4 linked regions of the Homo sapiens genome follow. Each later gene encodes a partner of the first gene's protein in a complex. Each region holds a gene or a part of one and is shown in the gene's direction. Other genes may lie near its edges.

Region 1 (7,036 bases):
ATTGAGGACAACTAAAAATGAATTAACGCATATCTGAAAGCAGAGTTTGATAGAAGGTGACAGATGAGGCAAAATATGCCAATCTAATGGAACAAATAAGATAAGGAGATATGCCATCCTTGACTCTAGAAAGATCAGAGGGAAGAAGATTATTGTTAATTGCACAGATTCTATTGCAGACCAATGCTAGAAGACAATGACATAGAAGTAATTTTAAATCAGAGTGGCTTAGGATATATGAGGTTAAAGGAATTTGGCTTTTAATTTTAAAACGTAAAGAATGTAAGAAACTCAAAAGCTCATGTTCTAACTGTTGTTTGGGAAAAGCAGTAATAGTTTGGTGTATCAGGTTAAAAGATAATTTTGCTCAGAATGAGTTTAAAATACCGAATTTTTGTCAAGGAAAACATTATTCACTTTAAATTGTGCTAGGGTCAGTTTTGCTTTTCGCATTTGAGATTGCTTGATACAATTAGTTTTTAATGTAGGTTAGTAAGAGGAAATGGTAGTCCCTTCCCTACCATTTCCCTCCCTCCCTTGCTCTCTTCCCCTTTTCTAAAATAAACACTGTCTAGATCTTTGGATATTTTCTTCCATGAAAAACTGCCTTAGTTGCAGCGTTCCTTCTTGGCTGTGGGTGGGGAGAAGTTTCTTCACTCTTGTACTTTTCCCTTCTGCCCCTTCAGGTGATTGATACACAATCAGAGTGGGTTTTGTTCTGTGTGTTTGTTTAATAACGATTTACTGTTACACGGATGAAGACTGGGAAAAAGCATTTGCCGTTCTAGCAAAGTCCTGTATACCCATGTCTTCCAACTGGAGAAATATTTTCATTAAAATAATCTTGACTACTGTTGAAAAGTCAAAGAAAATTTTCAACAAGATATGCTAGGGTCTTGCAGGATATGAGTTTGAATCTGTGAACTAAAAAGGTTCAAGTTGCATTTCCTTAAGTTGTAGTTTTTTCAGGGACTTTTGGGGGAGGGGGAATGAGCAGGCTCATCCTGTAGTATTTAGATAACACAACAATTAGAGAAATGTAACACCACTATGGCCACTAAGACTTGAGAAGGTAAAAACCAGGAGTGTCAGATGGTGAAACAGGCCATTGGAATGGAACTGAAGATTATGTCGAGAGGTTGGAATGAACAAAAAGTAAATGGAGGAGAGAGATCTAGTTTCTGTATCCTGTTTGCATCTGATGCTGAAGCAGAGACATGAATTGCTGATGGTAATGGATTCTATTCTCTTTTAGGAGGCCAGCAATATTATATAAATAGTGGTTGTTTGAGGGAGAGAAACGACAAGTTCCCCTTTTGTGCATGTTCACACTTTGTTTTGAATGTCTCTGAGATATCTTTAAAGTAGAGGATCAAAATTGGGTACCAGCATGGAATCAGGAGTTATACTTTGGAGGAAAATGAATTAATATTAGATCACATTTTCTTTAATCTTTTAAGATCTGGAATTTTACAAGGGTCTTCATCAACAGGGAAAACCGTGTTCTGAGTGCTAAAGTTTGGGTGGTGAACTGGATAATTCTTTTATAGGATCTCTGATAAAGATAAACATGTAAATAACTGCAGAAATAATGCTTTATTTAAGCACATTACCTATGATTCATGGTAGGGGGAAAATAGAGACCACAGAAACTCCTGAAGTCTTATCAGGGTTTCTTTGCAAACTATTATATGGATGCCCATCTGTTGTTTTTTCTTGAAATTTAGTGTTCAGGTTGATGGATACTGAATGTATAGGATTCTGAAGGTTGGAGTTTATTTAAAACAGAACTTTCCTTTTGTTTTACTACGAGTTATGAAATGCAGTTTTAATTTGTTGCAATAAATATAGAAACTGAGATGAGTAGGAATTTATACTAACTTTTCTCACTGTTATGGTACATACTCTATATCATGAACCTTGAAATTCAAATTGATCCCTACACTATCTTGCAAATATTACAAATGAAGAATTACAAAAGTTGTGGTATTTTAGCTTATCAAAATGCACCCGAAACATAAAATATTTTTCTTTAAGTTCTTAAATCAGAAGAATAGGAAAGAGTTGAAAATAAATGTGATACATTTTATCATTATATTAGTATTTTGTTGAAATTAATACCTTGAATCATGCTATGGATAAACATTTAGCCTAGAACTCTAAAAGTAGTATAATGTGAATCAGATTTAAAGAATTGAGAAGGCTGGCAATTCAAAAATAGAGGAAGAAAACACTCTTTGGGGTTATGAAAAAAAGGATCCTCTTAGTATTAAGATTTCTTAAAAAGCTATACACAGTTTTAAGATAGATTGTTCTTGAAGATAATGGGGCAAATAATTACCTGCTAAACAAATTATGAGTCCTGTGATTCTTTTTTTGGTTGAAATAATTTCAAGAACTCCAGCATATGTTGCAGTTTTGGCTAGAAAGGTGATTGTGACATACATCCATTCATCCATTCTCCCTCTCTCCTTCCCTCCTTCCCTCCCTTCCTTCTTTCCACTTTCAATACATAGGGCTGGGGTAGCAAAAAAAAATAATAATAGTAAACAGTTTTGTAAAACTTGATAATAGAATTATCTGACAGGGTTAATAGTTGTGTTTGAAATTCAGAGCTAGTATGGTTCACTCTCCCCAGAAAATAAAATTTTAATTTCTTACACCTCAGGGAATAAAAACTCTAAATTAAAACCCATCTTGCCTCTTTAACTTTGTGTCACTTAGCAAAAATATCTTTAAGGATGGAAAGAAGAGACCCCATGTGTCTTAAATTCCAAGTCACTGTGTGACTAAGCTCGGAGTTCCAATAAATATTAAACTAGAATTCTGCTGGGAATTTGAGTCATCCGCTTAAGCTACTCCTGGGACCAAGACAACTCTGGTTGACCTGATGTTGATGTTTATTCAGAGCTTTGGTGGAAAGGAGCCTCTCACCCTTGGACTTCTAATTAACAAAGTCATTCCTTAGTCACTTGTTAAGTGATAGAGCTACTCCTTGTTTTCAGGCCTGTAATTTGCTAAAGGATTGAGCACAACAGAGAAACTAAGGAGTTTGGAGCTTCTGCTGTTTAGAGTCTGCTTTCATTATTTTACTTTTACTTTCTTATCTAGCTATGTGAGGGTACTATGTAAAAGTCTGGTGATTTGCTTTAGATACTTAAGAGAAAAGCTTAGCTGTAGTCACATATAGTGTCTAAGATGGCTTTCCTTATAGTTACATGTTTTTAATAGTTGAGTTTGCCTATACTCTTCATAACATGTGCACATGTTAAATATGTTACTGCTTTAAAAAAGCATTTCATTAGTAAGATGGGGAATCGTTTATGTACAATATTGAAATGAGAGTAGTAGTATAATGGTGTGTTTGGTAACTAACAGGACACAATCAAAATTTGAGAATTAGAAGTTCAGAATGAAAAAAGGACTTCTCTCTTGAGGAATCTATCTAGAAGTTGAGAGATAGCAAGTGTTTAACAGAGTGTAATGATTTCTGAGAAGCATGCTTTTAAAGATTTTTTTTAAATTCCTGAATTTATGAGTTTATATTATAATAATCTATAATAGAGCAATAGATTTATACACTGGAAAAGAAACAAATTAAGGGAAGGAGAGAATACACAATGACATGGAGGACATCAAGAAAATATGTTTGGAAACATGTGAAACTCTCCAAATGGGAAATAAATATTCTTGAGAGAAATTAATCACAGTTGCAGTTTTTCTCCTAAAGGGACTGTTTGCACAATGGGTTATGTAGGCTCAGGTTTGATTTTTGAAAAACATGTTAAAAAATAGTATTCCTGTTATTCCACGTTTATTTTTCGAGTTTAGGTTCTGCTACTAAATCAAGATGATACAGATAAAAGGAAAGCCCTTTTATCTCCCCCGGCAGCATCTGTTGAATAAGGGGGTTATATTTGATTTCTAAATTCTAAAATTCTGACTGTACAGCAGTATATGCCGTTGTTGACAGTAAACAGTAAAGATTTCAAGCCTGTGGTTTTAAAAGAAGAAGAGATGATTGGGTAGAAACTTGGAATATTAAGAAGTTGTTTAGTTACTTGGCTGTTGCCTTTTCCTGTTTTGTTGGGAGGGGGAGCAGGGAAAGGAAGAGTATTGAACTTTTTGGGGCAACCGTTTTGTGCCAGACATTGTGCTGGAAGCTTTACACACATTTTGTCTTTTAATCCTTCCAGTTCCCCTGTGACATGTAGGTATCATTTTCTCTAGTTTAGAGATAAGGAAACCTAGTCTGAAAAATGCAAGAATAGTTAACTTGCCTGTGGTCACATGGCAAATTTCATTGATAATTTGATTTTCTTAAAGAATATGCCATTGTTTGAAGAAAAAACCAGTTGCCATCTGACATTCAGGAAGCCGTTAAAAAACCTTGCTCCCAACCTGGTAGCCATAAAACTCATGCAGCATTTGCAAGCCTCATAGCCTGGATTCTCCAAGACCAGGCTCTCTGGGAAGGCACATTGTTGCCAGTCGATGATTCTGCAGCAGCTTATGCTAGTTCTCAAAGCGCTGATGTCCTGCTACCTGCATTGCGCTGGAGGGAAATGTAGTCACCAAGGGCTGCCGCACAGGCTCTTTTCCCTCCAGTGCTAACTCTTCTGAAGTGTATCACAGAATTACTGCGGTGTTATTTGAGGCAGTGAAAGCAACTATGTTTCTTTATATAATTCATTGAAATAGCTTGTCATGGTCTTAAACTGAGTGTTCCCAAGGCTAGTTATGTTTGTCCACTTCAAGGAGCAGTTGTAGCAAATTCAGAACCATAGCTCTTCCTGGTTGAAAAGTTACAACTCTTGACTATTAACAGTTCTTAACATGATTTTTTTTTTAATTACCCTATCTTCACTCACAACAATTTTGTTAAAGACTATCCTGTGCTGATAAACTGCTCTCTGAAATGCAAAGAGGAAATTAACAATGTATTTGTGAATTGGAAGGAAGTGGAAGCAGAGAGATGAGGAGTAGTTGACTTTATTTTGAGGGTAGACTGTGTCAGGAGGGAGATTGTTGAGTGGGGGAGCTTTGTGGCACATAGTACATTTTTAAGTACATACCAGGTACGTTCTTTTATTGTTAAAGCCATAAGAAATGGAGTTATGAGCTTCTCCACCTCCTTTTACTTGCCTCATTTAAAATTTATGGAATTTTTGAACCTAAAAGATTCAAGCTGAGTGGTTCCCTATACACTGAAAGGTATAGTCAAATTGAAACTATATTGGAGACACAAAGATGAATAATAAGACGTGTAAACATAATATTTTCTAGGGTGCTTTGGATTTTGAGTTGCCAAATCATGTTGGAAAAGCAAGAGATTTGTATAAAAGCTGCAAAGGAAACATCTGTGTTTTGTTTAGAGAATACGTTATATTTTGGCCAAATAAGAAAAAAGAGAAATTGTCAAAGTGAACAATATGGGGGGAAGAATGTCTTCCTAAAGATCAGAATGAACTTATATTATTTCCTTAACTGATCCATGCTTTTTAAAAAAAAATGAATTAAAATACACTGAATCTATGTGAAGCCAAATATAAGGATTGAAAACAGTCTTTTTTAAATTTACCATCTGATTCCTTTCCAATATCTGGATGTTTGCTATTATTGTGGCAAGACCCATTGTTAACTGTATTGCTAAAAATCTACTTTTATCTATCCTGGTAATACTTGACTGACCTGAGTCAAAGTCACATTTTCTTTTTTTTTTTTTTTTAACTTTGAATTTCTTTTGCTTGGGCTTTCACAAATTGAAGTTATTTCATAGAATCGTTAGATTTTTCAGGTTGGAAGAGAATTTGATAAAAGCTACGGCTGCTCTGGATTTAAGCACACCTATCTTAGAGGCACCTTGTCCTCCCCCCATTTATCAAACAAGTTAGTTTTTAGATGCATCTTTTGTATGGAAGAGCACACAGTTAGTGTAGACTATAAATAAAATAATGATAAAATGCTACCATTTAGTGCTTATGTGCCATTTTCTTTCCTTTTGGGTTTCCTTCTTTATTTCTGTTTTGTCTTTACTCTGTTTTCCTTTTTATTTCTTAATATCTCATTCATCTTTTTTTTTAATTGCCAGGGGATCCATGTGATACAATGGGGTCAATAATTACTTATCTTCCTGTAGTTTTTGTTATTGCTGTTAAGTTAAAATGCCCAAAACAGTTACTATCTGCATTTTACGGAGGAAGAAATTGAGTCCTTAAGAATTTAAAGACGTTTTGAAAGTCATTCAGCTAGCAGTTGGGTAGACCTAGGATGGTCAGTCAAATCTTGATTTATTTCACACTTTTTTGTTTATTTTTGTCAAAGCAGTCTCAGAAAGAGGGGTTTGTGTACCAGGTGTTAAGGAATAGTTAATAACCTTTGGTGATGGATCCCGCAGTAAAATCCAAGCTAACCCCACAAAGGGATCTATAATAATAAGAACTGGGTCTTGAGACATGAAACGAGAATTGGCTGGCTGCATCACTTTTGTTCTAGTACCTTATTTTCTTCTCATGGTCTTCATAAAAGTCTTAGGATTTGTTGAATATTCTAGTACTTGAAATGTAATTTCCAGGCTGAGAATTTAAAAAAAGAATAGTACAGTTATGTACATGTTCATGCAGTGGCATTGTTTTACATGTTACGTACATTTGGAATTTTATTTAAAAAGAAGTAGGGAGACTTGCTATTTATTTGCAGACAAAGAGAGCCAGATACCTTTAGTTGACCAGAACACTCACAGGCCAGCTCTACTTTTTACTGATGAGTAGTATTCCAACACCATTAATGTAGGTGGTTGGGTCTGTTGGTTCAACTGGAAACATATCTCAAAGTTTATGGACCCCATTCCTCTATTCTCTTGAGAAAGGTAACAAATAAGATGAGGGGGCACTGTGTGGACCAGTGGTGATAATGTGCCATGAACCAAGTGCACGTTGGTCTACACCCCTAGAAAAGAGAGCAAGAGAGAAGAAACCTATGTGTAGACCTTTTCATGGACCACACACTGGCCACGTTCCTGATGTTGGTGAAACAA
Region 2 (3,555 bases), on another chromosome or scaffold:
TGTTGTTCTCTAAGAACAACTAAATTCTCTCCAGTGTTCATGTGTGATTCCTTTTTCATCATTATTACTTTAATGTGGATGAATACTATTTCTAGGAACTTGATTATCACTGAACAGATTGCATATGTAAATGCAGATAATTCTTGAGCAATATAGTGAAAATGATTTCACAAAAAAAATCCATATGTACTGTATACATCTTCCTGAATCCAAAATTCTCCTGTTATCCACACAGTTTGAAATCTCATATTAAACAGTGGTAAATTTTTAAACATTAGGACATTAGCTGGCTGCTTCTATAAATGTACCTGTATTGTCTGCCTGCTCCTTTTGTGGAGATGTGTTTTTGTATTGGATGTTTGGGCCAATGGGAGGCTTCAAGCTACAACATATTTTCCCACTTTAAATAATATTTAACATATGACAAACCCCAGACAAGGCTTTTAATATGTATAAAGAACTGCAGTGTTAGGTGGTTTATTTGCAAACTGTTTTCAGTGTTGTCCATTTTTATGGCACCTTTAACAATATTCTTGTTTCCAAAGTACAAAAAAAATAGGTTAAATAATCTAGCCATAACTGAATGTCAAGCAATAAAACAAATGACTTTTGTGCATAGACTTAAAAAATACAAATTTTAGACATCTGCATGTAAATGCAATCTCTTGTTTACTGCTTTCTTCAACTTGAGCAATCGATTCCTTATTTACTATTAACTTAAGAACTTGTAACGGCCTGTAAACATTTTCTCTCTTACTCTTCTTTCAAATTTACCTGTCCCTGCTTTTGAGTCATAATATTTAATGTTGTTCTGCACATCTCTATACAGTTAACTTTTTGGCTTTCATTCTGTATAGATAAGAAAATGTTATATTATAAACAGCCTACTCAGTGCAAATATTTATCTGTTTATCAAATCCACAATATGCTGTATAATACCGGTTTTACTATATAATCTATTTTAGACATAGCTGTTTAGAACTAGAGTGTGCTATTTTTGTGTTTTTCTGATGTGTGGTGCTAGACAAGTTACTTTTGTGAACAACAAAAATTATCCCTTTTATTCCTAGACAATACCACCTTTGGGTCTTGTTAATTTCACTGAGTATAACTATATATTTGTATATATATACATATATATATATATCTACCTATGCCCAACTGGCAGCTGTATCAGAGTGCTGGATTTGGGACATGCTTTTCTCTTTAAATACATAATATCATTATATAAATTATTCTAGAGTGTATTTAATTAGGATAAAATTACTTCCTTAGTATGGATATTTGACATCTATAGGGTGAATTTGTTTATAAATATGGCTATATGGAAACTTATTAGCATTTACTTTATGTTTGCTACTTGGCTTTACAGCATATCTCCTAAGCTGAAAAATAATTTGCCAGGCCTTCAAGATCCTAAAGAAACTTGTTTAATGGAGTAATATACTTTTTTTTCTTATTAAGGAATTGTATTACTGGCACCTAACACAGTTGTATTCTTAGCTCCTATTATAGATAATGGGCATTTACATAAAATATCCTAGATGGCTTGATGGCAGAATAAACCTTTCCCCTCCTACCTGAGTCATGAGAAGGATGGAGACGTCCTCTGCCATAACATGGGCCATAAAGCAAATTCGACATGGGATGTTCTGTTTCAGTATGACCTCAACCAGTTCCATGAACTGAGTGAAGGACCTTCATTTTCAAAGTTATTTAATAAGTAGCTTAATTAAGCCTTTCTACCCATTCTCCCAAGATCTACTGGCATTATTGAAAAGCAAAGTTTATCAAATATCTAACTAAGGATGTAGTTAACCTTATTAAATATTGATTAGAATTGTTCTGTAATATTACTGAATTTGTAAGATCTTTAGCAAAGATTTTTGAGCAATTTATAAATGTAGAGCAAATGTTTCTGTTTACTGCACTTTTTGTAACTGAAGGTGATAAATTCTCAAGCCATGATTATTGGCTTCCATGCACTGCAATATTTATCCACAATTCTAGACATTTTCCATTTTTGTGGAAGAGTTGCTGTTACCTTAATTATAAATGCAATTGTGTGGTTAATGAGAGCTAATGCTAGTAGTTAACCTTTTAAAGTGGATTGGCTACAGTTGAGGGAGAAATCTCTTTTAATATAAATCACATCATTCCTTAACTGCCTCTCTTGGAAAGAGATTGAAACCTTTTTTTTAAAGCACGATTTAGCATCCTAAGCTTCCTGAGGGTAGAGATTGTATCTTTTTGCGTCTGCACAATGGCTAGCACATGTCAGCATTTGACAATTGTTAAATGATAACAAGTGTGCCCCAATTAAAACGTTTTTCCTGGGTTGTTTTGTTAAATTTACAAAGTAAGCCAAGCCTTACGGTTAACATTCTCCTCTACAACCAAGTATTAAAGCCACATTTAAAAAGACCACATGAAATGCTGATTCTAATTGTGTGTAGGTCTTGAGGATTAAGCACACAAATTTCACAAACTTCTGTTTGAGTAAACAAACTCAGCCTTCTGTAAATATACATGCAAGTTTGGAAACAGTAATACTGTACCTATAAATATATGCTGTCTGTTTTGTGTACAGTATGTAAAAACTCCTTTTCTGCCACACTAAAAATGCAAGCCATTTATGGGAATCCTAAAACTAGTATTGAACTAAAACTTTGCTAATGATCTTTATTAGAGGATCGTCCAACTTTTCACTTACCTTGGGTTTTCTTTTCAATTCACTCTTACACTAGTCTGCTTATTTCCAGCTGTTTATTTTATTGAGTCCTGAATTTAAAAAAAAAATATTTTGATTCATTTTGTAAATACAAGCTGTACAAAAAAGAGAGATTTAATGTTGTCTTTTAAATACTCCAATTTTCATTCTAATATGAATGTTGTTATATTGTACTTAGAAACTGTACCTTTAATATTACATTACCTTTATTAAAAGTGCATTGAACACATCAATTTTAGATGTGCTTTATGTACTGTTATCCTATAATAAAACTTCAGCTTCTAATGGAACACTTGCCTTGTTTTTCTTCTTTTTTCTTGGTTATTGAATTGGACTGTACATAGTTTCCTAGCTTACATCCTGTCTCTAGTGAAGGGTCTAGGAGAGAGTAGGTAAGTGTGGTCCAGACTAGCAGCACGGCATCTCCTGCGACTTTGTTGGAACTGGATAATCCCAGCACTACCCAGACCTACTAAATCAATCTGCCTTTTTATAGGATCCCAGGTGATCCGTATGCACATTAAAGTGTGAGAAGCACCGGTGTATACCACAGCACCTTTTTTTTTTTTTTTTGAGACGGAGTTTCGCTCTTGTTGCCCAGGCTGGAGCGCAATGGCGGGAGATCTCGGCTCACCGCAACCTCCCCCTCCCAGGTTCAAGCAATTCTCCTGCCTCAGCCTCCTGAGTAGCTGGGATTACAGACATGCACCACCACGCCCGGCTAATTTTGTATTTTTAGTAGAGACGGGGTTTCTCCATGTTGAGGCTGGTCTTGAACTCCTGACCTCAGGTGATCCGCCAGCCTCGGCCTCCCAAAGTGCTGG
Region 3 (7,783 bases), on another chromosome or scaffold:
TTATTAATGTATAATCTCAAAACGTTAACTATTGCTCTGTAAATACATGCCATGCAGATTATAGAAAGCTTGTAGGATACTGTAAAATGCATTTGGTATCTTACCAGGGTAAGTATGATGGAAATACAACCTAACTAAGGTCAGTTTTCCCATTGGAGCTACTGTAGTTTATAATTTAATTTTTACTGACATTTCACCATGTGTATTATTAGTTTGACAAAACGAAGGTGAAATAATCCTGAATTAATTAAACAGAAACTGAATTGCCTCTATTAGTTTCTGTCTTTCTCTGATTCTTTTTTTTTCCCCCTCCAACTTTCACAAACAGTGGGAAAAGAGTTTAGTGTGTTATGTCGGTGAGACAGTTGCTCCCCAGAGAATGGGCTTTTTTTTATATATAGGCTCCATAATTTGGGAATGGGATGGATTTATAGGACAAGAGGTTTGTCAAAAGGAAGGGTTTTTATTAGTGCTTCTGTGGAAGCGATCACTTTCAGCAGAAATGATTGCTTCTTGCCAATCGAGACAATAATTTAAATATCAAAGCCTGTGCCCTAGAAATGAAAGGCAACAGAAAATGAGGAATGATGAATTGATAGAGGGCTGGTGGTAATATAGTGTAAAGTAGTCATCCTGACTTCGAAAGAAGTCTGCGTGTTCTCAGTGGGAAAGGTGTGTTCTTAAGCAGGTTTATAGCACAAAAGAAACCCCAATTTTCAGATGAGGAAATGAGGGACAGATAAGTGAGGCAACCTACCCATGGCCACACAGCTCATGAGGAGTAGAAGGGAGCCTGGTGCCTTGCTTCTCATTTTAGGTTCTTTTCCCAAGGTTGTCTTTTGGAGTTAAAGATAGTAGTTTGTAATTGTCTTGGTTTGCTTTTTGCAGGATGGTATATTATACTATATATGATACATTTAAAACAGCAGGGAAAATAGTTCAAAAAGTTAAACAGCTTTTCAAAGATTTTATAATCCTGAGGAAAGATTACTAGGCAATTTGAAAATCTAAATTTGTTATGCCTTGTTTAGTTTTACATATTTAGTAAATGATGAATGTGTAATATAAAATAAAAACCTGCTTCAAAAATGACAGTGATAAACTTGAACATTTTAATGAAGGTTAGTCCTGTTAATTTTCAGAAAAGAAAGATAGGAGCTAAAAATAGCTATTAATATGCAATAACAGCAAGACTAAGCATTTCTCATCACCTTCTAGCAACATAAGAATTCCTAGTTAGAATGTTGCAAGAAATGATTCTGACTTAAATGTAATAAAATGTCTGGTGTATATGACTAGAGGAATCTTCCTGTTGTTTCCACTTGAGCTTTGCTTGTTTTCATTCTGTTCTTTGAAATAGAAATGAAGTATATTCTCTGCTTGGTGACTGTGCATTAGTTGGGGACTGAGAATGAATTTGTTTGGATATTTATGACTGCATTGTTTAAGGAAGAAGAGATTGAAACTATGCATACACCAAGAGCCTGATGCATAATAGACTGATATTAACTAATTTATTAATATTCTTTGTGAAGCAATCATGAGAGATCCTTTTGTTTGGTTCAGTTTTTCTTGATTTGGGTAGACTCCTTGTGGTAAGATTGTGAAGTGTATAGACTGGGAATATATGTGTATCCTAGGCTGTTTATCTGTTTGTTTGTTTATTTGTTTTTCCAGATTTTTTTTGTAATTGAGATTCTTGAAGGTTTAAGCTCAGTATTACTCATGGCACATTTATTTCCCATGATTATCCATTGTTTTCTCCTGCAAGGTGAGAAAAATCTGGGACCAGGGAAGTTTCTTGAGATGACTGAGCTGTGTATTTGTAAAATATTCTGGAAGCTGTCTCACAAGTTTAGTGAAGAGGATTTTTAAAAATTTTAAATTGGTTAAACTGGATTCAAGACAGTAAGTACAGTCTTTAGGTCCTTGACTTGTACAGGTGATACTTTGATCCCAAGGGGAAAATATCCAAGTCTACAAACCTAGTACACATCTGGTCACTCAGAAAGCAGCGAGTTCAGTGAACACTGCACCTTGCGTAGATGAAATATGGTTAGTGAAAAATCAGTGGGGATGACACTATGTATGTTTGTACATGTATCTCTGTGAGCACAGAACAATGACTTACGCATGAGTCTAAATATCTTTAAAAATATACACCAGTGAAGTCAAATGGATCATAATGAGGGCAAATAAGTACCCAAAGGGAAATAAGAAAATGATGGGAAATTAAAGATCACTTGTACGACATTTGGTGACTTGAGATCCACCGGTAAATACACTACAAATCTTGTCTTTAAAAAGCCATTTCAAAGGAGTAATAAAGAGGTTCTGTCACAGCATAATGTAAAGAAACTGAACACAGTACAGGATTCTGCACCGGTGCAAAATCGGAATGCATTCTTTGAGTACATTAAGATGCATTGAGTACATTAAATAATTTATATTTTTTAAAGAAATATCCATAGCCAAACCAAGAAGGAAAGTTTCTTTCTTTTTTGTGTGTGTGTGTATCTTTTTTAAAGTATGTGCAATTGAATCTATTAATTACCCTGAGAATTTTAGTTTATTCAGAAATCACGATAGTAATCATATGAATCAAAGGATGTTTTTCTGTCTTTGTAATGCAGTATTAGCTTCCATATTTCTTTGAGTGTATTTTAGAAAAATCATGTTTCTTTTGCAAAATGCCTGTTTTATTTATTTTTTAATTGTAAAATGATTACGTGTCTTATTTTAGATTGAATAGACAATTTTTTTTTTCTCTCAGTGTCTGCAGAATGCTTGGATTTTCTTCTACATCTCAAAGCTCTTTTAATTCACTGCTCACAACCAAATTTACATCTTAATTGCAGAGTTCACATTTAACAATATAGACAGCATAATGCTACTGGTAATTAAGCTTTTACTACCTGCTTTTATACAGTATTCTGAGGCACAGTTTTTGCTATGTGAGTTCTGATCTAGAAACTTTGTATGCATTTAGAACACAAATAAAAGGAATTAGGCCTATATCTTAGATATAGCTAAATACAAGGCAGTGAAATTGCTTTCTTCTGTGGGGGGACCAAATCATGTCTGTCATTTTTATATTCTGAATTTTAATGTGGCTGCTCTATTTTAGTGTTTTGGTTTTTTAAAGACCTAGAAAATTTGAGAGGGTTAAGGGAGTTGAGTCCTAATTTAGTGAATTTAACATACGATGAATATCTGAACTAATTTATTTTGATCTCAAAGATTATACTATTTCTATCATGTAGGACTTAAGATGTAAAAGGTTGATAAGCAGTAGAGCTGAATTATATCAAAATTGTGGGTTTTTCACTCTCCATAAGGTAGCAGTTATCTCTTTGCCATAAATAGCTGGTATCTATTCCAATGTACATTTGCTAGTATAAAAAAATCCTGTAGATTAAAATAGGACCTAAGCAAACTCTTTGTTATATGGAAATTAAAGACACGGTGTACACAATTGAAGGAGGAAAAAACACACTTGTCCTCTTATATCCTCCTTTTATTTTTATTTTTTTGAACACTTTTGATTGAGAATTCTTAGTTTTGTAAATTATTATCTGTTTGAAACTAGTTCTTATAGTGACCAGACTGTGTGATGGTTTATAAAATGTTTCTGGGTTGATTTTTTTAAAGCATATAGGGTGCCTTATGTATAGAAACAAATGTGTACACTGTGTTTTATTTGAAAGCAGGATGTTTTGGGTAAAATCATATATAAAATTATATGCCTCCTAGTTTGGAAGCTTGTATTGAAATATATACATATAATTAAGAATACTTTTAGTGCACTGTTTAGTAATGCTCTCCCTACAAAAAAAAAAAAAAATGCTGTCTTTATTTTGTCAAAATGCATCGAGAGAGATTTAATTCGCTATTTACCCCCACAGCCCTCAGACTCCCCACCCCTAAAACTGAAGAAGCCAATTTGTCCTGCGGCTGTTTACCGTTGTTTTGAAAAGCTATGCGTTGTATCTATATGTAAAGAGACAGTCGCAGGTATAGAAAGGTTTACACATATAATTTACTTAGGCATTCTTTCAAATTGTATTGTCACTATCTCCTCTTCTGTAGTTGTGTAAAACTGCATTCCACCTCAGAGATGACGATCCCAGTTCACATGCTCAAACAATTTAGAAGAATGCCTTTATTATTATTATTTTTAATGCCCAGCATACATCAGGAAAACAGGAAAAGACATGATTAGGAATACATGAGAAAGTACAGCACCAAATAAGCCGCGGCCCCCGGTGTAATAAAAACACAGACAACGGCAGGACAAACTTAATTCTCTACCTTCCGCAGAATCCTTTCCCAAATTAACTGAGAGTCTGCGTGAGTTCTCCTTTTCAAGGCAAAAGAGATCTTAGGTTAGAAATCAAAGGCAAATCCCTCCAGTGCTTAGAGAGTTAAGTTAGTTATGTTTCTTTTGTAGCTTCCCAGAAGAAAAAAAAAAGAAAGAGAGAGAAGGGAGGAAAAAAAATCAAACCCGAGAGTGTGTATTGGGAGCGTTTCAATCGCTCCCTTCTCCGCTCCCTTTTTCTCTGCCCACTCTCAGTTTCCAGCCCCCTTCGGCTCTCTGCACCCTGCCTACCTGCCTGGCTCCTCTCGCTCCGTGCAGCCTCCCGTCGCCTCCCTCCTGATTGGGCAGAGGCCCCCCAATCGGCTGCGCGGCTGGGCCGGTGGGACTGCATATGTAAAGCCCTACTTCATATTAATAAGCTCCAATCGGGGCTTTAAGTCCTTGATTAGGAGAGTGTGAGAGCTTTGGTCCCAACTGGCTGTGCCTATAGGCTTGTCACTAGGAGAACATTTGTGTTAATTGCACTGTGCTCTGTCAAGGAAACTTTGATTTATAGCTGGGGTGCACAAATAATGGTTGCCGGTCGCACATGGATTCGGTAGAACTTTGCCTTCCTGAATCTTTTTCCCTGCACTACGAGGAAGAGTAGGTACCTTTTTTCTTTCCTTTTTAAACTCGTCGTGGGGGTGCGGGGGTGGGGGCGGACAGACTATATCTTTACACACTGATTCAGGTAATGCCCTGGGTATTTTGTGTGCACGACTGCTTGTTTGTGTCTGTCTTGTGTCTTTTGTGTTGAGGGTGATCTCCTAATTCAGTAAGTCGAGAATTGTTCTCTGACTACAATGTTACCTTTGAGGCAAAGCTCAGTGACTGTCAGTAAAACAGCTGTGTGACAGTCACTTCTTATTCAGGTGCTAAGAATAGGCACTTGGCACAAATGCTTAGTGAACTGTTAAAATGCATCTTTTACTAGGACCCATTTTCCCAAGGAAAGATGTTTTAAAATACAATATTCAAAATGATTTATACTATTGAGGGCCTCTTATGTATTTGCAGTTTGACAGATATTTTCAGCTCCTTGTCATTTCTTACCGCGCAGAGTTAGAGGCAAAATTGCACATTTACTAATTCTCCTTCAGAGAACAATTTAAAAGCTAGCCCTATGCAATTCTGAGCTAGAATAATGTTATTTGCATGGTTAGCGTTAAGTCAGCACTTAACTGACAAATCAGTCCATTAAGTAACATGAGATTTTCACACATTATAAATATTTAAGGGGGGAAAAAAAACTAAAGAAGAAACAGTAGTGACTTTAAAATTTTCCCCTTAAATACTGCTCAGAGTGTGGATTTGTCTCGTTTGTTGTGTCCAGAAAATATAGAAAAGTACTTTCGTTCTTACAAGCAGTTTAATTAGTATTTATGGATATCTTTATGCACATGGAAATATATATTTAGATTACTAAAGGGGGGGGAGTGAGTAGGGGGTACGAGAAGTAAGTTAGGCATTTTTGTGTAAATGAGTAGGTGATAAACTTAATTTCAACCTACTGTTAAGATAAAATGTTAGTATATCACGAGAGCTGTCACTGGTTTATCTCCCTTTCTGTTGAGTCAGTTATATTGCTTTGCTTTCACATTACAGTAATACCAACTGTTATAATTCTGAAAAGAGTGCCCTTGGCAAACATTTCTCTCTATAGATTGTGAAGAAAATATCAAACTCTAGAAGATGAGGTAGTGCATTATAGGTAGATGTCCACTAGCTGTCCTTAGTGACTGCATATTGCATTGCTTTGTAATTAAGTAAGAGATGAAAAGTGACTTGCAGTCTCAGTGGCTGCTCCTGTATGTTTGAGCGTGAGTGTGAGTGTGTGTGTGTATGCACGCTCACACATGCACATCCACCCACATCCATGCTCACACAGGGAATATTAGCCAAGAGATGGATTTAGGAGGAACTGAAAGATTATAAGGCTGTGCTTGCATCAGTTTGAAACACTCAAGGGAAGAAACAACCTTAAGATGTGTAAAAATAAAAATGAAAAATAAACAAAGGTAAGACTGCCCGCTCAAGTGTAGTTTGAAGGTTAGTGTACTTCGGGCTGTAGAATTGGAGAGTTTAAGACGTCTTCGTGTCAGGAAGAATGTCTTATCCAAGCACGCCCAGATTCTGAACTTTCTCTTGTAAATAAATAAAGAAAACAAACTTTAAAAATCCCCCAGAGGCTTCTTTTTGAAGTAGTTTCCTTGAATTTAACTTCTTATAGCTAATTTGAATAATTCGTTTAGATAAGCCTCTTAAAGCAGATGCATTTAAATGAAGTCAAGGCACATGTCCTTTTGGCTTTGGCGCAAGATTCAAACTAGCTTTCTTTTGGGCTCAATTAAAAGTCATCTTTAAAAAATACAGATTTATTGTCTGGATGCAGTTCTGATGGTTACGTGGTTCACTGGACAGACAGAAAGATCTAACGCTAAGCAACGCATCTGCCTCTCTGTCTCAATTAATAAACCACAGAATTTATACATGCTATTAATATTCATAGTAATTGTACCGGGTTAAACCCCATCACGTGTGTGTATACACAGAAATGAAACCAGAGTTATACAGTTTTAGGGGCAAATATTGGACAGTTTCTGCTTTGGAGGCTGTTAAAAAGATTCATACCATTTATTGACCACCATTAAGAGAGCTTAAAATGTTAACCTCTAACTATGTATTTTTTTATTTTAGGAAATGTGCCAGCACATTAAAGAACATAATACTTGAAAGCTTGTTTCACATTTAATAGCAGTAATAGCTGATAGCATAAATAGATGAAAATAATATATCTGCTCATTTTGACATATGTGTCAGTCTAATCATTCTAAATGAGTGTGCTCATCACATGAATCCCTTTCAACCTCTGATTAAAATGTAACATTGACTACAGGATTATAGAGCGGACTTAATTTTACTGACTGTTTTAACAGTTGTCACAGCTGTTGGAAGAAGGAAAGGCAACTGAAACACTCCAAAACAGACAAGGCGAGGAGGGAACAGTTTAGTAAATTTCAGCCTGATCACTGAAGTCCAGACATTGAAAATTTAAGTTTCGTGTTTTAAGATTCGTGTTTGGAGCTACACAAGTTTTATTTTGTATGTTTCACTCTTTCTGTTTCAGGGTTTTCATGTTTTTTCTTTTTCTCATCTCTTCTTTTTAAAATCTATACTAATTAAAAAACAAGACAATCCCAAAGTAATTCCATAATGTCAAATTATAGGTGATAAAATAGGCAGAAAGAAAAAATTTATACAGTAACAGTAACAACAACAAAAAAGCCGAGATCAGAGGGGATGCCTTTTTTTTAGGGAATGATAAGAGCTTGGCCAAGTCACTTTAGATGTGATATTATTTGAGAACTCTGAACAGACACTTTAAGTTTATTTTTTCAAGTAAGAATACTTAAACTCTAGACT
Region 4 (7,060 bases), on another chromosome or scaffold:
GCTCAACGGGATAGTCACCAAGGCAATGCAAATCAAAACCATGAGACACCGGCTCGGGCAACATAGTGAGATCCCATCTCTACAAAAGAATACAAAAATTAGCTGGTGTGGTGGCATGCACCTGTTGTCCCAGCCACTTGGGAGGCTGAGGTGGGAGGATTGCTTTAGCCCAGGAATTCGAGGCTGCAGTGAACTATGATTGCACCACTGCACTCCAGCCTGGGTGAGAGAGCAATACCTTGTCTCAAAACAAACAAACAAACAAAACCCCATGAGATATCACTTCATACCCTTTAGGTTGGCTAAAATAAAAAAGACTATAACAAGTGTTGACAAGGATGTGGAAAAACTGGAACCCTGACACATTGCTGGTGGGATTGTAAAATGGTGTGCCCACTTTGGAAAACAGACTGGCAGTTCCTCAAAAACACCGAGTTACCTTATGATCCTGCAGTTCTGTCCCTAGGTATATACTCAAGAGAAATAAAAATATATGTCCACAAGTAACCTTGTACATGAATGCTCACAGCAGCATTATTCATAATAGCCCATAAAAGTAGAAACAACCTAAATATTCATCAATTCATGGGATGAATAAACAAAATGTGGTATATGTGTATAATGGAATATTGACCATAAAAAGGAATGAAATATTAATATAAGCTATAACATGGATGAGCCTCACAAATACTATGCTAAGTGAAAGAAGAAAGTCACAAAGGACTTCATATTCTATGATTCTATTTATATGAATTGTCCAGAATAGGTAAATCTATAGAGAAAGAATATCTCTATCTAGAGTTGGTGGAATGACTGTTAATGGAGAGGGGGTTCCTTTTTGGAGTGATGAAAATGTTCTAAGGGTAGATTTGGTGATGATGGCACAACTCTGTCAATAAACTAAAACTCATTGAACTGTACATTTTATTTATTTATTTTTGAGATGGAGTCTTGCTCTGGGGCTGAAGTGCAGTGGCGCAATCTCGGCTTGTAACCTCTGCCTCCCAGGGTCAAGCGATTCTACTGCCTCAGCCCCCCGAGTAGCTGAGATTACAGGCACGTGCCACCACGCCCAGCTAATTTTTGTATTTCTTAGTAGAGATGGAGTTTCACCATGTTGGCCAGGCTGGTCTTGAACTCCCGGCCTCAAGTGATCCACCTGCCTCGGCCTCCCAAAGTGCTGGGATTACAGGCGTGAGCTGCCATACCCGGCCTGAATTGTACATTTTACTTCTATGGTATTTACATTTTAGATTATATTAATTATTCCTCAATAAAGCTGTGATTTTAAAAAGCAGGCTAGGCGCAGTGGCTGGTGCCTATAATCCCAGCACTTTGGAAAGCTGAGGCAGGAGGATCACTTGAGCCCAGGAGTTTCAGACTAGTCTAGGCAACATGTCAAGACACAGTCTCTACTAAACAATTAAAATTAAAAAAAAAAATTAGCCAGGCATGGTGGTGTGCACCTGTAGTCCCAGCTACTTGGGAGCCTGGGGTGGGAGGATTCCTTGAGCCCGGGAAGTCGAGGCTGAAGTGAGCCGTGATTGCGCCACAGCACTCCAGCCTGGGCGACACAGCAACACCCTGTCTCATGGAAGAAAGAAAGAAAAGAAAGGAAGAAAGAAAAAAAAAAAGCAGATTGGAACTCTGGAATTAACAAGAAGTAGGACGCACGGAGCACTTCCGCCTGAGTGGAGACTGTGGATCCGGGTCAACCTGACTACCTAAATCACAGGCCAATAAATGGTCTTTCAGTGGTCAGTCCCTGTAAGATCCGTGGCTCTCAGCTTCTTATCTTAGGGGCTGTGGAGGAAGGACATGATTATGTTGATTTAAGCGCTGAATATTTTCCCTTGTGATACCCATCCTCGCAAAACTTTGCTTCAACCACAAACGAGGACCTTCTGTACCAGAGGGGCAATAACCACAATGAAGCTAGGAAGAAATGCAGAGCACCCCAGCATACAGTCCATAAGCTTCCTGAAGTGGGGGGCCTCAGGCATCGCTGCCTCCCCAAAGAGGATCAGGCCCAGAACAGTATGCTCCAGAAATAAGACTGGAAAAAGGGAAAGAGGGGCCTCAAGTCCAGGAGACCAGCGGCTTTCTGAACGCGCACCTGCCAACCCACTTTGGACAGGTCACGATGGACAGCGTGGCAGGAAAAGAAAAGGTCACTGTCTACCCAACACATGAGAAACTGTTTCTCGTGCCTCACGTCCCCACTCCGTCCCCACCCATGTTGTCTGAGTCCCTCGGTGTCAGAAACACTGCTAAGAAATTTAAGAAATTCTGTTAATGAGTTTAAGAAATGTTTTTAATGATTAAAAGTCAGTGACTTGTGAATAACCATGTAACTTACAAACGCAAGGAACTCTGAAAGTGTGCAGCACCACCGATCAGAAGAGAAAACCAAGGGACCCGAAATATGCTTTAATTAAATTTTCTTTTAAAATGTCACTGGAAAGAACATCTTGGGAAGACGGCCTGGCCGATCGCCGTGTGAAGGGCAAGCCACTCTGGCCGAGAGGGAGCCCCACACCTCGGTCTCCCCAGACCGGCCCTGGCCGGGGGCATCCCCCTAAACTTCGGATCCCTCCTCGGAAATGGGACCCTCTCTGGGCCGCCTCCCAGCGGTGGTGGCGAGGAGCAAACGACACCAGGTAGCCTGCCGCGGGGCAGAGAGTGGACGCGGGAAAGCCGGTGGCTCCCGCCGTGGGCCCTACTGTGCGCGGGCGGCGGCCGAGCCCGGGCCGCTCCCTCCCAGTCGCGCGCCGCCGCCCCCGCCCCCGCCCCCGCCCCCGCCCCCACCCCCACCCCCACCCCCACCCCCAGCCGGCGCCCGCGCCCGCCCCCGCGCCGGGCCCGGCTCGGCCCGACCCGGCTCCGCCGCGGGCAGGCGGGGCCCAGCGCACTCGGAGCCCGAGCCCGAGCCGCAGCCGCCGCCTGGGGCGCTTGGGTCGGCCTCGAGGACACCGGAGAGGGGCGCCACGCCGCCGTGGCCGCAGGTCAGAGTACGGGTGCCCGCGGCGCTCGGGAACCGGCTGCTGGCTGGGCGGGGAGTGCTCAGGGAGGGGGCGCGGAGGGCTGGGGCCGAGGGTCTGGGGGCTAGGGCCGAGGAAACGGGAACTGACGGGGTCCCAGACGGATGAGAGCTGGGGAGAAGGGGGTCTCGGCTGAGGGGTCCGGGGCTGAGGCAGGGTCATGGTCCGGCAGGACCCGGACTGACGGGTCGCGGGCGGGCGGCTCACGGGTGACCGGGTGAAGGGGTCTTGGGCTGAGGGCACCCGGGCTGAGGGTCGCGTCTACCGGAGCGCGCACTAGGGGCGGAGGGCGCGGGCACAGAGAGCCGCGGCCGGTGCCGACTCGAGTGGACGCGAGCCGGTGCGTCCCGGCTTCCAGGACAGCCCCCCTCGGGAGAGCGCCGGGTGGGCGCGGAGCCGGGGACACGGGGACCTCCGCGTCCCCGGCGGAGGTGCGCAAGCGTCGGGAGCCGCTCCGGGGGAACTTTGGAGCAGGGTGTCTGGACCCGGGGAAGCGAAGATCCGCGTGCGTCCGTCCTGAGGCCGCGCGGCACCCCTGCTGAGGAGGAGGTCCCGTTCGCTGTCCAGAGCCCAGGGGCGACCGCCGCTTGGGGACCGGGGGACCGTTCAGCGAGGGGCGCGCTTGTAGCTGGCCAGGCCCTGTGCCCTGACGCGTTGTGCTGGCCCTACGCCCGGCGGAGGGGCTGGGGACGGGGACTGGGTGCCTCCGTGCCTCCGCGGATGGAGCGCGCAGCCAGGACCCCCAGCCGCACCCCGGGGGGCTGGAAAGGCGAAGTCGCTGCTTTGTGGGCTCCTGCAAGTGCCAGGCGCTGACCACTCCTCCTGGGAGCCTAACTGAGGGGGGTAGAGGCAGCAGAGGTTAACAGAAATCTCAGGTCCCTTGGTGGAAGGTGGGTGTGTAGTCGTGGTACTTTACGCCTCGGTGTTTAGGGAGGAGCCTAAGGTAAGGAGTCAGAAACGGGGAGTAACCGAGCTGCGGCTTTTATATAAGGTCAGTGGTAGGTAAGGAAGGGGCCTTAACCTCTGCTGGTGACCAGAAGCCTGCATTTCTGCATTCTGCTTAATTCCCTTTCCTTAGGTGAGTTGGCTCACTCTCATTGCATTTTGTTGGAATGTGTTGGTGATAGGTCCGAAATTTGCAAAATTATTGTATTATCCTTATATCATTTTTTTTTGCAGTGCTCTTGTTTTATAAGAAGAATCCAATTCACTTGGGTCATAGGCTAACGGTTGTAAAAATAGTGTCATTGTTATAAAAGAAATCAAGTCAAAAATAGTCGTCTGCCATGAAGAAACTAAAATTTTTCTTCTTTTCCTTGCAAGATTAGGGACAAAATGTAAAGTTTATTTGTGTAAATTATCATTTGGATATAAAACCAGACAATGATAAACTGAGTTGTATAATACCTATTCCTGGAAAACCTCTGATTTTGAAGTACATTATTTTAACCCCAACTGTTTCTGTCATTCGTGAGACAAATTGTTAACTGGATTTATTAAGAGAACAATGAATAACTTAACTCTTTAAAAGGACCTGGGCAAATCTTCGACAGGTTTCAGGTATTTTATGGCAGTCTTTCTGTCTATTGCTAAGTGATCGATTGCTGACTGAGAACAGAACCAACTGATGGTGCTAGATGATTTAGAAAACCTTTCTGGTATAGGGACTGGCATGGACATTCACTGTGGCTTTTCTCTTAAAGAAATACCTTTCACTCCTAGGGGAGTTTGACAGAAGACACTCATAGATGCTACCAGTTAGCATTTGGAGTAATATATCAAAACATTCTGTTCAAGTTTTAAAGTAAGTTTTGTGTAGTATATTTTCAATCAGATTCACTTTGGAATCAAATACACTTTATTTGATTCCAAATAAAGTGTATTTGAATATTCACTTTAATATACGAAACTTTAAAGGTAATGTCTCAGCCAAAAAGTGAAGTGTATTACAAAACTGTCCATTTTTGTCTTCTTGTGTACTTCACATAATTTTTCTCCCTGATTTAAATTATATGATATTTGATAGTTAACTTGCTAATAATTATGTCTTAAGAGATCTTTGAATCAACTGGTGGCCATCTCAGTCTTTTAAAACTCACTTGAAGGAAAAGAGAAACACTAATGATGGTTTTTTTTAAAATCAAAAACTTTTTTCATATTTACAAGTTTGTTTCTAGTTCTTAAACAATAACTGCTGTAAAACCATGGCATCAGTGAGGTATAAAGTTTTGTAGAATCCCAGGCTGAAGACTTTTTGGATGTCGTTTTCTCATTTCTTTACATTAAAAAGAATATAATTTCTTTTTAAAATTAAAACTAAAATGTCCACCGGCCTCATATTCTTTATTGAACTTAAGTGCTTTGAAAATATTTTTGCGATTGATATTTTTAATGATAAAATATAATATTTTCTTTGAAGGACTAGTTTCCTAAATGTTCATTTTTTTGTATGTTTCAGAACTACTTTTAAAAAAATTCTAGATTATGCTTTAAATTGCAATATTTCTAAATTCCTATGACATTTAAAATGTGTACAAGAGAAAAGGTGTGACATGAGGAATATGAATTAGAAGTGGATTACTAATGGTCGTAGTGAATTGTTTTTAATCAGTGTTATATAAATATAAACAAATACTTTTTTCTTCTGTAATTTTCTGACAATAAGGATGTTAGCCACTAACCTTAATTATCAAGATAATTATGTGCATGAAAGCTGTGTAAAAGGCACAACCGTGGAACATATACAAGTATTAATAATACATTTCATTTAGTTTTCAGGTTATAAAATCGTTATTAATAACAAGAGGCTTTCATGAAGTAGGAAAATATGTTAAAATGACATTTTCTGAATGTTTCACACATTCTGGCCCACACTTTCACTTCTTTCCTAGCATCTATATATTCCCAATGCATAGGACAGAGTTGGTCATTCTAATTGTGGGTGTCTTTCTGCTGGATTCGTTGTCACTTGGACTTGGAAATACAGTATGTCATTAGGTGTGGCAAATGTACTGGAAGAAGTTTTTGGTCTCATAGGATTCCACTAAATAAATATTAGCTGTAGAGGATTTTTAAAAACTCACTAATAGAGAAAACTTGGTGAAGTCACTAGTGTGTAAGCGTAAACATATGCACCCCCCACAACTGAATTTCTAATTTGCTTATTTTTCCTGGTAGATCTCCACTTTGCTTACTCTCTCTTAATATCCCAAAGCAACAAAAAGCGCAGTGATTTTAATTGCTTACAAAGGTCCTTTGAAACGGATCTAATTTGACTCCACAAAAGAATAGTAAGAGTTGTGAACAACCATCTTGCAAGTGTAGATATCCCCAGCGTATCAACTTCAGTTAGTTTCATAGCGTTCTAAATCAAAAATTTAGATTTAAGATTATTTGAAATCTTCTTGGAAGTTCTTACTTACTGTTTGCGTTTTCTCAAAATACAGAGGTAGATTGGGGGAGTAATATAGTATATGTTTTAAAGCTGTTATTTAACTAAAATGTCATGTTTTAAATTTTATTTAATGCACTTAAAGTAGGTTCTTGGGATAAAATCTATTCAGATGCAATAGGCCATGTTTTGGGGAAAACTTTTGTAGATGTTTAGATAATATCTGTCATCAATAATAGTATATGTTTAAATTATTTTGTAAAAACAGATTTACATATTTTTAAAATTTCTCTTCAACAATAAGTACACATCAATATTTTAATGCCGAGAATTTCATTCAGAGTATGACTGTTTACATTTTCAACTGTTTCAATTATTATGGCTTAGGCAAGTACCTTATCCTTTCTCTCAATTTTGTCATCTTTGAAACGGAGAAAGTGTTGCAGTTATTATTGCTTGCTCTTTTGCTATGATTTTAAGGCTTTATGAGCAAACCCATGTACTTTAAATGATGTGACCATGACCCTGAATTTAATTGAGCTGATATTCTGAAAAGAACCTTCATGAATATCTATGTCATAGCTAACTCTTTTACCAATGTTAATAGTTCACTGTAGTTCAAACCTCA

Evidence for each region.
Region 2: the proteins of NRIP1 (region 1) and RORA are in contact, whole or in part, in a crystal structure (PDB 4S15), measured with the Homo sapiens proteins. Residues at the interface, in NP_001426204.1 of Homo sapiens: Thr499, Leu500, Leu501, Gln502, Leu504, Leu505, His507; in NP_599023.1 of Homo sapiens: Gln332, Val335, Lys339, Phe344, Met345, Gln349, Gln352, Ile353, Leu356, Pro505, Leu506, Glu509, Leu510.
Region 3: the proteins of NRIP1 (region 1) and ESRRG are in contact, whole or in part, in a crystal structure (PDB 2GPP), measured with the Homo sapiens proteins. Residues at the interface, in NP_001426204.1 of Homo sapiens: Ser378, Leu379, Leu380, Leu381, Leu383, Leu384, Lys385, Ser386, Gln387; in NP_001429.2 of Homo sapiens: Val277, Ile280, Lys284, Phe289, Leu294, Gln297, Met298, Leu301, Gln302, Lys448, Leu449, Glu452, Met453.
Region 4: the proteins of NRIP1 (region 1) and PPARG are in contact, whole or in part, in a crystal structure (PDB 9CWN), measured with the Homo sapiens proteins. Residues at the interface, in NP_001426204.1 of Homo sapiens: Ser130, Thr131, Leu132, Leu133, Ala134, Leu136, Leu137, Ser139; in NP_056953.2 of Homo sapiens: Val321, Gln322, Thr325, Lys329, Phe334, Leu339, Gln342, Val343, Leu346, Lys347, Pro495, Leu496, Glu499, Ile500, Lys502.

The regions. Positions count from the first base shown.
Region 1 is NC_000021.9:15,054,984-15,062,019, reverse strand, and holds part of NRIP1 (nuclear receptor-interacting protein 1), read left to right. Parts: intron 1-7,036. UniProt on the Homo sapiens protein: Modulates transcriptional activation by steroid receptors such as NR3C1, NR3C2 and ESR1. Also modulates transcriptional repression by nuclear hormone receptors.
Region 2 is NC_000015.10:60,487,750-60,491,304, reverse strand, and holds the end of RORA (nuclear receptor ROR-alpha), read left to right. Parts: 3' UTR 1-3,021; downstream 3,022-3,555. UniProt on the Homo sapiens protein: Nuclear receptor that binds DNA as a monomer to ROR response elements (RORE) containing a single core motif half-site 5'-AGGTCA-3' preceded by a short A-T-rich sequence.
Region 3 is NC_000001.11:216,720,424-216,728,206, reverse strand, and holds the start of ESRRG (estrogen-related receptor gamma), read left to right. Parts: upstream 1-4,777; 5' UTR 4,778-4,907; coding exon 4,908-4,963; exon of another isoform or gene 4,964-4,967; intron 4,968-7,783. UniProt on the Homo sapiens protein: Orphan receptor that acts as a transcription activator in the absence of bound ligand. Binds specifically to an estrogen response element and activates reporter genes controlled by estrogen response elements.
Region 4 is NC_000003.12:12,285,016-12,292,075, forward strand, and holds the start of PPARG (peroxisome proliferator-activated receptor gamma), read left to right. Parts: upstream 1-4,054; 5' UTR 4,055-4,119; intron 4,120-7,060. UniProt on the Homo sapiens protein: Nuclear receptor that binds peroxisome proliferators such as hypolipidemic drugs and fatty acids.